Homo sapiens: one gene and its partner. The protein of the gene in region 2 binds, or shares a complex with, the protein of the main gene of each other region. Each region holds a gene or a part of one and is shown on either strand. Other genes may lie near its edges.

Region 1 (7,000 bases), on a different chromosome or scaffold from region 2:
ATGATATATCACCCAATACCCGCTAAGATGGCTATAATAAAAATAATAAGTTGGCAAGGATGTGGAGAAACTGGAACTCTTGTGCATTACTGGTAGCAATGTCAAATGGTGCAGCTTCTGTGGAAAATGGTACGGTGGTTCTTCAAAAAAGTTAAACATAGTATCACCATATGACCCTGCAGTTCCACTCCTAGGAATAAACTCAAAAGGACTGAAAATGGGCACTCAAACAGGTACATGATATACCTGTTCACAACAGTGCTATTCACTATAGCCAACAGTTGGAAACAGCCCAAATATCCATCAGTGTATGAGTGGAGAAAAAAATTGTGCCTATCCATACAATGGAATATCATTCAGTCATAAAAAGGAATGAAGTACTGATACATGCTGCAACATGGGTAAACCTGGAAAATATTATCCTAAGTAAAAGGAGCCATACACAAGAGGTCACATATTGTACCATTTCTATAAACGATTAAGAACAGATAAATCCATACAGCCAGAATGCCAACTGCTGGTTGCCAGGTGCTGTGGGAGGTAGAATGGGGAGAAACTACTTAATAGGAAAGGAGTTTTACTTTGCAGGTACGGAAATGTTCTGGAACTAGACAGAGGTGGTGAGTATACAACCATTTATTACACTTAGTACTGTAAATGTGCTAAATGCTCCTAAATTGTTCAACTTAAAATAGTTAATTTGGCTGGGCCCAGTGGCTCATGCCTGTAATCCCAGCACTTTGGGAGGCCGAGGTGGGCAGATCACCTGAGGTCAGGAGTTTGAGACCTGCCTGGCCAACATGGTCAAACCCCATCTCTACTAAAAATGCAAAAATTAGCCAGGCATGGTGGCACATGGCTGTAATCCCAGCTACTCGGGAGGCTACGACAGGAGAATCGCTTGAACCTGGGAGGCAGAGGTTGCAGTGAGCTGAGATGCACCACTGCACTCCAGCCTGGGTGACAAGAATGAAACAACATCTCAAAAAAAAAAAGAAAAACCCAATTAATTTTATGTTATGTGAATTTCTCCTCAATAAGTTATTTAAACAAAGTAAGATAGTAAGTGTTAATGAGATAGTGGAGAAACTAAAATCTTTATTATACTGCTGTGTAAGTGTAAAATGGTACAGTACTTTGGAAAACAATCTAGCAATTCCCTAAATAGTTAAAACACAGTTAATGTATGACCCAGCAGCCCATTCCTAGGTATATACCCTAGAGAAATGAAAATACATGTCTATACAAAAACCCAAACACAAATGCTAATAGTGGTATTATGCATATATGCCAAAAGTAGAAACAACTAAAATATACATTAGCTAATAAATGGATAAAAATACTCTCATATAACTATACAATGGAATATTATGTTCTAAAATTGTGGTGAGTATTGCACATATCTGTGAATATACTAAGACCCATTTAGTTGTGCATTTTAAATAGGTGAATTATAGAGCATGTAAACTGTATCTCAAGACAGTGGTTAAAAAATGTTCTCAGTAATGAAGACCTATCTTTGCCTTTACAATTCCAAATGGTACTCACCTTTGCCATCACATAAATGGCACACATTAATAACTGGTCCAGATGTCTGTCCATCATAAGTTCAGGACACTGAATTATGGAGAATTCAAAGCAGGTCCAGATTTTTTTCCTCAATTCATCTGAAATATCTAGTTTGGCACAGAGATCCCGAAGGCGGACAGCTGCTAAATGGTATACCTAGGAGATAAAAACATTTCAAACTTTGTTTAACACTTGTATTTCCCAAGCTCATGCTCTGATAAGGTATGTGAAAAATTACCTTTCTAAAGAAAAGCGATAAAGAGCTGGTCTTCCTGGGTCTATTACTACTGCTGGTTACAGACTGGCCTTGCTTCTGCTGTTGGCCACCTGGGGAAATCTGTTGAATGGCCACTTGACCAGGGACTTGCAAAGTTGTTCCTGTCACCTGTTGAGAGCTCAGACTTCCAGCCAGGGCCTGAGCACTGAGGGGCTGGATGGAGCCTGTCACAGCTTGTGCCTGCCCCCCAACATTGACTTGGACAGGGAAGAATGTTATCCCTCCATTTTCATTGGCAATACCTAGTGACAGAGAAAAAAAGCATGAAGAAAATGTTGATAATAAGAGGTTCTCCGGGCAGAGGTTTACAATTTCTGCTCTCCCAAACCCTCTCTCCCCATCACTCCTCTGTCCCCTATGTCACTCTAGCCAAACCTCGGGTAACTTTTCAATACATGCCACAGAGAAGGAACTCAATATCCAACTCTGCCTTCCTTACCTTGCACAGGAATGGTTACCGTTTGCCCATTGTTGGCTGTGACAGTGGCGGTTGCCATGGTGACCAAAGTCTGTCCAGGAACTGGTGTGACAGAAACAGTCTCCCCAGATACATTCTGCACAGGGACAGCATTGACTAGGGGCTGTGGGGGCATGCGCCCAGGCGTCCCTCCATCAGAGGGGCTATCATTCTCAACAAATAGCCGCCTTCTGGTAGTGCTGGCTGGTGGGGAGCTGTACCTATCGTATAATGTGGTTGGAGATGTTATGCCTAGGGTCAAAACAAATCAAACAAAGCATTTAACTCAAGGAGACTCAGATCTGACTTCCGTCCAAGCTCTTATGTTAAAAAATAACTACAGTGTTTGAAATACTTCATAATTCAAAAAGCAAACAAGAATTACAGAAGTCATATCTTACCTATATTCATTAGTGAACTTTCATTCGTGTTCAGTGAACACTACTGAGAGCAAAATTTTAAAACGGAATTTTTTGTCTTGCAGTGTTCCTTTCTCCACGCCCCCTTTCCCAAATCAGACCTGACTCTGTCTTCCACTACTAAAGAACCTTCATGATTTAGGGGCAATTTAAGGAATTACCCTATTTTTCTATATTATATTTTTCTATAATATTTTCTATCATATCCACTTTCTACCTACCACTCATGTAAGATGTGATTTTACTACAGAGCCACTACTTGATAAGGGGACCTGATTGGTAGTATGTCATCTAGGAGCATTCCGCCACCGGTTTTATCAATTTTGATCTCTGTCTTTTTCCACATATAAAAAATTATTAAAACTCAATAATGTTCTTAAGCAAGGTGGACATGCATGATTTGGATTCAGTTAAGCATAATTTATTTTTTTAAAACAGTTTATATACCATAAATTTCATCTACTTAAATTATACAATTCAATGGTTTGGGGCAAATTGTTACTATTTTTTTTATTTTTTGAGACAGAGTCTTACTCTATCACCCAGGCTGGAGTGCAGTAGCCTGATCTCGGCTCACTACAACCTCTGCCTCCTGGGTTTAAGTGATTCTTGTGCCTCAGCCTCCCAAGTAACTGGGATTAGAGGCATATGCCACAAGGCATGGCTAATTTTTGTATTTTTAGTAGAGATGAGGTCTCACCATGTTGGCCAGGCTGGTCTCGAACTCCTGACCTCAGGTGATCCACCCGCCTTGGCCTCCCAAAATGCTGGTATTACAGGCTAGTTTTTTAAAATTGTGGTTATATATATAACATAAAATTTACCATTCAACCATTTTTAAGTGTATGATTCAGTGGTACACAACCCATTATGGCTTAGTCTATTTTTAAGTATTCACACCAATGTCTGAATTTTTGAGAAGCATTTCTTCCTTCTTCTGTGTCCACTTCTAAGAGCTGTGCATCAGAGTGTTTTTAAAATTTAAAATATACATAGAAAGTTTGTAAGAAGTACTGATAGGAGTAAATCCTAACAAACTGTGGCTTAACATTTCTATTTCCAGATGATACAAAAGTAAATAAACTTACTAGATTTGTATTTGGTACAAAGCTGCAGAATCAGAAAGAATAGATTATGATCATTTTTTCTTATAAAATATCAAGAGATCTCAGGAAAACTGAGAAGTGGTAAGTACAAAGAAAATGAAGTTTAAAGTCAAGTCTTCCTAATCTGTAGATTAGGGAACGGAAAATTCTACAAAAATAGACTAAGAAAGACCAGCTGTCAGATCTTTCAAAAATGAGGACTTTTCATAAGGATCATCCATGTGTATTAAGTATACACTTAGAGTGATTTTTTTGGGGGGGTTGGGGGTAGAGATGGTATCTTGCTATGTTGCCCAGGATGGTCTTGAACTCCGGGGCTCAAGTGATCCTCCCCACTAGGTCTCCCACAGTGCTGGGATTACAGGCATGAGCCACCATGCCCAGCCTAGAGTGAATCCTGACTTTAAAACTGGTATTCCTTCTATAGCCAGTTCTTATCAATTACATTATAAAACTGATCTAGAAATAAGAATATTCTTTTAATTGGATCCAAGGATTTAGAACTCTCTGGATTTACTGAATTGCTCTTTAAAAAAGTAGTTCTATCTCACATATGTAAACTAAAACCTTTCACCTTGCAGATCTTCTAAGCAGCTGCCTAAAAAATACAAACCAGATAGATAGCAAAACTGCCCTTTTCTGTATTTCTTGGGCCAGCACTAATGTCACATTAACTAGGGTAGCACAGCTCAACAAAGTGGAACATACTCAGTTGTCTTAACTCACTGGCTTGTCTATACCTAACTGGATCATGCAGCTCTATCTTTAAGAAGGCTTTTCTATTTCTGATTTTAAAAGTAATATGTATTTGCCTTAAAAATTTTACAGAAATCACCAGGAATTCTATCACCCAACAATGATCTTAACAGTTTGGTTTTTCCATTTCCACTATTTTGTATGCTCATAAATAAACATACACTTTAAAAATAGGGATCATATTAAATATACAGCAGTCAGCCGGGCACGGTGCCTCATGCCTGTAATTCCAGCACTTTGGGAGAACGAGGTAGGCGGATCACTTGAGGTCAGGAGTTCAAGGCCAGCCTGGCCAATATGGCAAAACCCCTTCTCTACTAAAAATACAAAAATTAGCTAGGCGTGGTGGCGCATGCCTGTAGTCCCAGCTACTCAGGAGGCTGAGGCATGAGAATCGCTTGAACCCGGCAGGCAGAGGTTGCAGTGAGCTGAGATTGGGCCACTGCACTCCAGCTTGAGTGACAGAGCAAGACTCTGTCTCAATAAATAAATAAATAAATAAAGCAGTCTATCCTTTTTAAAAGATACCTGTTATATCATGCATTTTCCTGTGTTCTTAGTCTTTAAAGGCCCTTCTTTTAAGTGATCCATGTGGTACAAAAATGCATAGAATATTTTCTTCTATGTATACCCTATTAACTTCACTTGTAGGGTTAGATGAAATTTAAATTTCCAGATAGTAAGCCCCAAAATATTCTCCTAGTATTTTAAACTTACTCCTTCCAAGTCCTCCAGTATCAGCACGAACTTCAGTCACCCTTCTGGGAGTCAAAGGGGAGCCAGCAATGCAAATTTCATCTGCCCTTTCCAGGTTCTGAGGTGGCATGACCTATGAAGAATTGGTTACACAGAATGCCAGTATCCAAAAAAGCACTTTAATTACAAATACAATAGTAATCTAAGGCAGAAAAAGTATCTTAACAATTATTCCATCTAAATAAAATCAGCTGTCTTTCCCATTTTAATAATAAAGTTAAAAAAAAAACTTTTGGCAGTCAAAAAATTCAAAACCTTGTAATTGGATACTAAATATGAGTCAAACTTCATTACTGGTTTGGAGAGTTTGAATATCAACCACTCTAAAGCAGGAGTCCCCAACCCCTGGGCCATGGACCCTGTTAGGAACTGGGCAACATAGCAGGAGGTGAGCAGCAGGCAAGTGAGCATGCGAGCAAAGCTTCATCTGTATTTAAAGCTGCTCCCCATCGCTCACATTGCCGCCTGTGCTGGCCTCCTGTCAGATTAGTGGTGGCATTAGATTCTCACAGGAGTGTGAACCCTATTGTGAACTGCACACATAAGGGATCTAGGTTGCATGCTCCTTATGAGAATCTAATGCCTGCTGATCTGTCACTGTCTCCCACCGCCCCCAGATGGGACCATCTAGTTGCAGGAAAACAAGCTCAGGGCTCCCACTGACTCTACATTTTGGTGAGTTGTATAATTATTTCATTATATATTACCACGTAATAATAATAGAAATAAAGTGTGCAATAAATGTAAGGCAGTTGAATCATCCCAAAATCTCTCCAACCCCCAACCCTGTCCATGGAAAAATTGTCTTCCATGAAACTGGTCCTTGGTGCCAAAAAGGTTGGACCACTGCTCTATGGGAAAGAAACTTGGTAAGGAAATCAAGAAAGAACACTGAATTTTTACTCTGTCACCAAAATCTTAGGACAACCACAAATTATCTGACTCGTTTCCTCTTTGACATGGGGTGAAATGTGACAGGTCACCTACCTTACTTAAGGGTGTATGTCTGCTGCCTAAACCCTGAAGGCTAGGCAGTGAGCCAAGGCCATGGTGCCCAGCCAAGGAACAGGTGTCCCTGAGAACCCCAACATCCCAGAGAAGATCTGAGAAACTACCAAGGAAAACAGTCCCATCGTGCACACACATAGTAGGCAAAGAGCCAGAAAATTAGCTTAAAAGCAGCTTAGCGATGGGAGGTGGCGAGGATCTCTAGAGCTGTCCTGCTGCTACCTAGGAGTACCCTGTATATAAGTCTTTTATTTTTCCCCACCACCTCTGCCTCCTCCATATGTAAGTCTTAATAAACGTTATCTACTTACCAAGCTGGACTTGTCTGAGTCATTCTTTGGTCTCTTGGCACCTTCCCAATTTGTGGGTAGAGAGGGACGTTACAGTCCAAGATTTTTCTCATAACAAGGTGTAATTATAACATATTAAACCTAATTGCCACCCTCCCATCCCCAAAAGGATTATTAATAGATTAGATATTGATGTATTTTTCTCATAAAAAGATGTTATTTTCACAAACCTCTTCACATGTAGGAACTCTGTTTTCATTGTCTCTAATTTTTTCCCAGAGTGGAGACTCTGGTTTCCATGCCAAATGATCTAAGATCTGTTCTTCAATCTGATTAAGGTGTTTTACCACCTCTCTACAAAG
Region 2 (8,289 bases):
TCACGACTCAAAACCATAACTTTTCTTGTGTCCAAACACCATCAGACTATTGCCACAGGGATATTCTTTTTTTTTTTTTTTTTTTTTTTTTTTTTCTGAGACAGAGTCTCACTCTGTTGCCCAGGCTGGAGTGCAGTGGCATAATTTCGGCTCACTGCAACCTCCACCTCCCGAATTCAAGCGATTCTCGTGCCTCAGGCCCCCAAGTAGCTGGGACTATAGGCATGCACCATCATGCCCAGCTAATTTTTGTATTTTAGTAGAGACAGGGTTTCACCATATTGGCCAGGATGGTCTCGATCTTTTGACCTATGATCCACCTGCCTCGGCCTCCCAAAGTGCTGGGATTACAGGCGTGAGCCACCATGCCCGGCCCCAGGATATTCTTTTGTGCAAAGTTTAGGAAACTCCATGCACTTCTCAAAACATCAGATGCTGGGGACTGGCTTATACAAGAAATATGGAGAACACATATAATAGATTTTAGCCATGGGCTAGATTTTCAGATTTTAACAGAGACAGATAAGTGGTGAAGAACTCCATGAAAGTTGTATTTAAGTCAGAAGATTCTTTTTCGTGTGTGTGCGTTTCTATTATATAGATGAACTATTTCATATGTGCTGTCAGAGGGGACAATCCCACCATCCCATAGCATGTTACTTTAAGGTCAATTAGGGCTTCTAGCTTTCAACCAAATGGGAACTCCTATAAACCATCCCGTTTCTCTTGTCTTTCAGGCTATACTGACTTTCTTGCTTGAAGCTGTAACAGATTAATTAGAACTCAAAAGTCCTTTCTGTCACCTTCACATTGGTCTTTAGACAACCTTGGATGGGCCTTTCACTATACAAGCTAATTCCAGGAGGGACTCAGGGATCCCTCTGCCCGAAGTCAGAACTAGAAGGTGGGGCTGGGAAGTAAGGAATGAAAAGCAAATGGGACTATCATAAGAGGTATAGAAGTTTTAAAAAACAGATATACATTTCGAGAAGATTCTGGTTTCTTCAGCTGGGGATTCTGGGAACTTAGTATATACTGGAGAGTTCACAGGTCAGGCTGCATGGTCTGGTCCAGAATCTACTTGGTCTCTGGTCTCCTCACATCGTAAACACTTTCTAAGAGATCAAGAACAATTCAAAAGAACCCATCCAATCAACATGTCACAACTGACTGCCATGACTGAGTCAAATCAACCGTAAGATCCTGGGGCTCCTGAATCACTTCCAGAAATGAGAAAGCAGGACTTCGACCTTTAAGAATGATATGCCCTCAGCTGTTACCAATATCCGAGGCTAAGAAGGTTCAAGTCTGAAAGTTGATTGAGTAACTGCAATGATCCTTGGGTAGAGCAGATTCTTCTCTTGCTGCTGAATGTCCTCAGACGTGTAGAGTGCCAGGAGCAGGGGAGAGGGCAGTCCTGGAGGTACACCCTCTGGCCTCTCCCAAGCAAGCAGTGAGGTGTGCATTGTTAGAGGTGCACCGGGAAGGGAGCTTGGTTTCGGACCCCAGGACATCCTGTCCGCAAGCAGCTGCTACTTCTTGGGCTTCTCTAGAATATTGAGGAATTTCCCCCGTGTCATCTCTCTGGCTGGAATCACAAAGCAAACAAATGATCAATGAAAACCTAAAATCGGAAAAAAGAATCATAGGAAGATTTAATTTAAAAATGCAGATTGATTTAAATTATATATCAAGTTGCTATCACAACAGATTCAATCATCACCAACTAACCTAAAAGGGGGTAAAAACAAACCACTATAGACAACTAAAACTGTACAAAGCTATTCTGAAGTTGGCAATTGAGATACATGCCAAATGACTGGGAAAGATTTTATCATCCACCTTTAAACAAATCACCAGGGGATTCCCCCAAAACCTATCTCTGTCTCTAGAATCTAACCTAATACTCATGTTCACTATCTCAGGGGGTTTGCTCTTGAAGCCTAAAATCCAACCAAGATTAGTCTTCTCTGGGTTGCTGGTCTCTGGACATTTATAATCTCAAATCAAAATTAGAGATCATTTACCCTATCTCTCAGCAGTGTTAGTCCCTGGATACTGTAATATAACAGGGTTTATATTCCCTCAGTGCAGTTCATCTGTGGATGGTGTCATAAAGTAGGGTTTATAGAGCTTTGGTCTTCTCTCCCTTGGCATTGTCAGTCCTTAGCTATTTAATATAGCCAGCCAAGGTTTATGTGTCTTTCTCCGGCTTTCAGCACCATCAATCTTTGAATGCTATAGTTACAAGTGGGTTTATACAGCTACTTTCCTACATATAAGGCTCCAAAATGAAAGTAAAACATTTCTCAATTACAAGGGCTACTCCAGAGGTCTCCCATTTTAGATCTCAGAAAGCATACGTAGTGTAACAGCCCCTTCCTCATCCTCATCCTCATCCTGCAAGGCCATGTTTTCAGATTTCTTAAATGGATTTAACAGTGCAGAAAGTTTCTGATCGCTGATGGCTGGCTCTGGAAGCCAGGCCTTCTGGAACCATGCAGTAGGCACGGGGTAGGCTGTGTGGTCTCCCAAGAACACATCTCCGTCCTGGCCAAAGAAGTGAGGTGGCTAGGGAGGCACTCTCAGGAATGAGAAGGACCTTCACCCTGGCCTCCTTGTTGCCTTTCCCAAGTCCAGAGCAAATGGAGCTAGATGAATGGCCTCCAGCTCCCCTCTGCCCCAATTTAAGTTTAACAGTTTCTTGTTTTCTTGTACAATGAAGAAATAAAAACTACACAACCTCTGGGACCACAGGGAGGCTTTTGTAACTTCAGTCTATACATTCCCCATCTTTCACTAGTTCCTGTGCCCCAACAAAGGGAAAGGAAATTCCATTAACTAGGCATAGAAGCCCAGTGTTGGGTCTTGCCTCATGTGCTCACAACCCCAACCCAGACCAAATCAAACAGACCATTCCTTCCTTCATGGATTTACAGCAAATCCTGTACAAGAAAGTTCCCATAAGACTTGCATGCAATTACTAGCTTATATGGTTGTCTTCCTCCACTAAAATGTAAAAACTGAAGGCAGAGACTGTTAAGAGCTTTGGTCTTCTCTCCCTTGGCAAAAGATCCACAATCAGATCCAAACTCCAGAGCACGTGCTCTCCTGTTCACTTGTCATCAGAGATGTTAACATTTCTGATTAATTCATATAGCCCTTATTTTATTCCTCATTTCTTTATCCTTGCTCTGCTGCACTGCGAAGATTCTTACCGACCTGCTACAGACTCAGCAGACCTAGTGTCTGCTGAGTAAGTGTTGACTGGATAAATTATAATACACCAAAGAACTAGAACCAAGTAGAAATGCAAAAAATGTTAGTTTCCTTCCTTTCCATTAACAAATATGACTAGTTAGTGGCCCTCAGTGCTCCATTCTCTACATGATGGGAGTCTTTTTAAATGTGCCTTGCTTATTTGGCAAGAAAATCATTTCCCTTAATGCAAATAATGCCAAGTTCATGGAGAGACTGGGGTCAAGGACTAACTACTCTAGAGAAAATCCAATCAAGTACTGTCTTGCCCATAGGAGGTAGCATGGGCTTCTTGCAGAGAACACAGGATTTGAACTCAGTTTAAGTTTCAGCTCTAGCACTTAGCAGCAGGGTGACACCTTGGGCTGGGCAGATCTCTGAGCCTCAGTCTCTTCATTTGTAACGGAGAGCATGTTAATACCCTACTTTTCTCTTGGATATTAGCAATGAACATGCTTGGTATAGTGCTAATCATTAACACAACACTTTCCAGAGGGGGGTAAGTTCTCTCGCACTTAGTATTTTCTGAGTGAGTGAATGAATGAATGAATGAATGAACAAACTGCACAAAGGGAGGCTAGCAAACAAAACTCCGTTCCTTGGAATCTTTTCCCTCAGCTTGAAGGAAAAGAAATTTACTTATACTTTTGGGCAGATTGGGTCTCACTTATTTCTACTAGATGGGTTATCTGTCTACTCTCAAGTTTAAACATGTAACTAATGATCCTGCAACATGGCTAGAAGCAGGAGCTCTGGAAACCAGACACGGTCAATACAAAAGTCTTCTGGAGAGAATAGAGCCTTGTTCCAAAAATCCTGGGCCTGGAGCACTGCATTGCTCTAACCAATGATTTCTGCCTGCTGACCTTCAGACTCACCAACTCCTTACTGTTTTTCCCCAAATGGGAAAATGACCAATATTTTAAGACTTAGAATTTTAAAAGATCCACACAATTTAAGGGGTCAAAAGGGTTTAAAAGGAAAAATAAATAGATATTCTGAAGTCTCTCAGTGGCAAGCTCTCCTTGAATTTAACCAATCCTTTTTAACAACCCTTTTTCTACTCAATCATTCCTCCCCCTTCAACCTAATCCAAGTACACAGAGCTGCAGGAAACCACTGTAAAAGTAGAAGTAATTCAAAAGACATCATCTCCTACATGGGAGGAGAGAAAGTTTTCCTACTCGCCAGTCCCATACAGGAGATATACGAATGTATGACACAGCCGCTCCCTAAAAGAGGGCTGTGCCCTATAAATCAGATGCTAAGCACCAACCCCTTTTTGTGCACAGAGAAATTGCTGTGGGTCAGGGGCTGCTCCAGAGCACGTGCCCTCCTGTTCACTTGTCATCAGAGATGTTAACATTTCTGATTAATTCATATAGCCCTTATTTTATTCCTCATTTCTTTATCCTTGCTCTGCTGCAGGGCGAAGATTCTTACCGACCTGCTACAGTAATCACCGCCCGCTAACCGAACCCCCCCAAACCTAGTGAAATTGTTTAGTGATGCCAACTGCGCTTTTAATTTGCAAGACATCAGACACAGAGGTAATTTATACTAACATCTGTTCATTTTTGACTTCTGAAACAAACTTGCACATACTGCTACAAAATCCCATTAGGAGTAGGGAGACAGCCTTCTGCTACTATTCTGTATTCCTCGTCTACACGCGCACACACACACACACACACATACACACACACACCCACACACACCTCTTCTAGTAGGGTCTTATAAATAAATGTATTTTACTCTTAGCTTTTTAAGCTCCCATCAGGAATTTCAAATCTCTTTGGGGAAAAATCTTTAGAGATGACTACTGCCTGCTTACAGAGAAGAGAAAGCCATTTCTATTCCCCACTGCCTGGTTCTGTCCCTTCTTCTTCACAATGGTTGTAGCTTGGTATAATTCTAGGATGAATGGCCAGAGTAAGACTACATGTTCTTCAGCTTGGCACTCCCAGTTCCTCCATTTTCTCCTTTTTCTTTGTTCCCCATAATGTATTATATTATATAGAAAACAATTCTAGACACAACAAGATTGGGAGAGAGAGAGTGTTATATAGAGTCAGTGAAATCTGTCAACTATTTTCTTTTTTTTTGAAACAGAGTCTCGCTCTTGTTGCCCAGGTTGGAGTGCAATGTTGCAATCTCAGCTCACTGCAACCTCTGCCTCCCCGGTTCAAGTGATTCTCCTGCCACAGTCTCTCAAGTAGCTGGGATTACAAGCATGCACCACCACACTTGGCTAATTCTTTGTATTTTTGGTACAGACAGGTTTTCACCATGTTGGCCAGGCTGGTCTCGGACTCCTGACCTCAGTTGATCTGCCCGCCTTGGCCTCCCAAAGTGCTAGGATTATAGGCATGAGCCACCTCGCCCAGCCTGTCAACTATTTTTTTGATTCTGGATTTATTCTCTAAGATTACAAGGTTTCACAGGAAGGCAACACCGCTTCCATTCTAATAACTATGCCAAGAGGGGCCCACTGGTCATCAGCTACTGGTGTATGCCGTGCAGGAGAGAAGCATGACCCCTATGTCAAGTCATGATTTACAGGCCCTATTATGTCGTACATAGATCACAAATTGAGAAAGCCACAATTGAAACTGTCACTATAGGGTTAACATGTGAAATGCTGCAGAGTGTGGAGAGGGGACTGGCTACTACACACTGAGAGACAGCAAATGGATAGACTACAATCAACTTTCAGGTTTCCACTGTTTCTGTTATCCCCCACCACTTTCGTAGTTCCTCCAGGGCTATCCAGTTCATGGCAGCTGTAAATACCTGGGTATACTTGGAGAGGTCAGGGCTGAAAGGAGGACTCCACTGTGCCTGCTCTGAAAGTGGTGTGTGGTTTAATATAATCTCTTCTTTAGACTCTCCAATTCCTCCATCCTACATTTAGCCTTGCTTCTGGCTCACTTTCCACGATAACTATCCCCAAACTGCCTTCTCTGCAGTAAATTTTTCTGGTGGCTGGTTGAAAAAGATTCAGTGGTACAGATTGATTTCTCACTGGTGAGGGATGAGGGATTACCAGAGGCACCCTGGTTAACGAGATTGGGTGCAGAACCTCTCTCAAGACCAGCCCTCTCTGCCAGGGCTCTGCACCTTTCCCCAATGACATATGGGTTTTATTACAGAAAGATTGTCCAGATTATAACTTTGAGGCAATTGCCTGATAAAATTCTGCTCAGCTTTTATGTAGGGAACAATGTAAATTTTAAGAAACTTTTTAATGAAGTGGAAGAAACTCATAGTTCAGTTTTTCAATTCCAATGCAAACTACTTTAAATATTTCTATGCCTCAACATAATTAAAAATGTTTGTGAAGCGGGGACAAATTACTTTCCACTGGGTTTCTCATATTCAGAAGAGCAATAACAGGTTGCTTTTAGGAGATTGTAATATGAGTGGCCAGGAAACAAAGGAGACAATGTAATATTGTGAAAAGAGCAGGACTTCAGCTCTTACATTGACCCTGGGCCACATAGGCAAATTACCAAGTTATTTTTCTGAGCTCCTTTCCTCATTCATTCAAGGTAGGATTAATACAAAGTCACACAGGCATTCAATAAATGCTAGCTACTGTAAAACTATTTGTTTCATTTCAAACAGAAAGTTTACTTAAGCAATAGGATGCCTGGTGGGAAAACTATCTAAGATTCATTTCTTTTAGAGTAACTTATCCCTACTTAAAGACATATTGCCCTACATGTAACAGCTATGTACAAGAGTTTAAAAACTGGTTGGTTTTAGAATGACACGTGAAAAACACCAAAATTCTCAAATTTAACAAGGTATGGAAGGATTTTTTTTTTTTTTATAAGAGACAAGGTCTCGTTCTGTCACCCAGGCTGGAGTGCAGTGGTGCAGCCATAGCTCACTGCAGCCTCAACCTCCTGGACTCAAGTGATCCTCCTGCCTCAGCCTCCTAAGTAGTTGTGACTACAGGCATGCAATACCTGGCTAATTTTTTTCTTTTTTTTTTTTTTGTGGAGACAGGATCTTGAACTACTAGCTTCAAGCATGGAAGGATTTTTTGTTATTGATTTTTATTAAATGATGAGGCAAAATAACTTAATGAAGTATAAAGATAAGAGCTGAATGAGCATGCCACTAATGGAGAAAGGGGGCATTGCCACAGAATCAGTATTTATCCCCATCTTATCTCCATCTGATGTTGATCAAAACATATCATTGGCCATTTAGTTTAAAAATAAAAAGGTAATATGCTTGTGCACAAATGCCAGTCACTTTATGCACAGTAAAGGAATGAGAAAGGGGTACACGAAAGGACAAAAAAAACCCTACACTTTTGTAGTCAGGATGGAATTCAACGGAGTTGTAGTTTTCTGAGAATGTATTCCTGGTCTGTGGGAATGGAGTTCTGCAGTAAAGAGCAGGTTCCCTTTGTAGTAGACACCTCCTGTCTGCTGCTGGAACATATCAATTGTATCCTCATTTCCAACTGTGCAGGTGTGTCTGTCTCATTAATTGGCTGCCCATCAAATTGGAATCTGATCTGCCTCATTGATATACTGTTGTTCACAACGAGCTTTCATTAGTCTACCAAGTGGTGTATGCCTCTTAATCTTAGACTGCACCACTGAACTATCCTACCCCTCCACCTTCAAATTAATATGACCACTGTTGGCTGGGCATGGTGGCTCATGCCTGTAATCCCAGCACTTTGGGAGGCCAAGGCAGGCGGACTACCTGAGGGGTCAGGAGTTCGAGACCAGCCTGGCCAACATGGTGAAACCTCATCTCTACTAAAAATACAAAAATTAGCTGGGCGTGGGGGCATGTGCCTGTAGTCCCAGCTACTCGGGAGGCTGAGGCAGGAGAATCGCTTGAACCCAGGAGGCAGAGGTTGCAGTGAGCCGAGATCATGCGACTGTAATCCAGCCTGGTCAACGGAGTGAGACTCTGTCTCAAAAAACAAAAAACAAAAACAAAAACAAAAAACAACCACTGTTCTCAGTCTTGCTTCCTTCCTTGGCCTTCTTGTCAGTCATG

Evidence for each region. The genes of interacting proteins can lie anywhere in the genome.
Region 1: LIN52 (region 2) and RBL2 share a complex: the UniProt entries of both Homo sapiens proteins name them as parts of the DREAM complex.

The regions. Positions count from the first base shown.
Region 1 is NC_000016.10:53,465,471-53,472,470, reverse strand, and holds part of RBL2 (retinoblastoma-like protein 2), read right to left. Parts: coding exon 6,869-7,000; intron 5,414-6,868; coding exon 5,302-5,413; intron 2,556-5,301; coding exon 2,286-2,555; intron 2,089-2,285; coding exon 1,808-2,088; intron 1,726-1,807; coding exon 1,549-1,725; intron 1-1,548. UniProt on the Homo sapiens protein: Key regulator of entry into cell division. Directly involved in heterochromatin formation by maintaining overall chromatin structure and, in particular, that of constitutive heterochromatin by stabilizing histone methylation.
Region 2 is NC_000014.9:74,192,221-74,200,509, reverse strand, and holds part of LIN52 (protein lin-52 homolog), read right to left. Parts: exon of another isoform or gene 8,243-8,289; intron 7,925-8,242; exon of another isoform or gene 7,233-7,924; intron 1,589-7,232; coding exon 1,533-1,588; 3' UTR 1-1,532.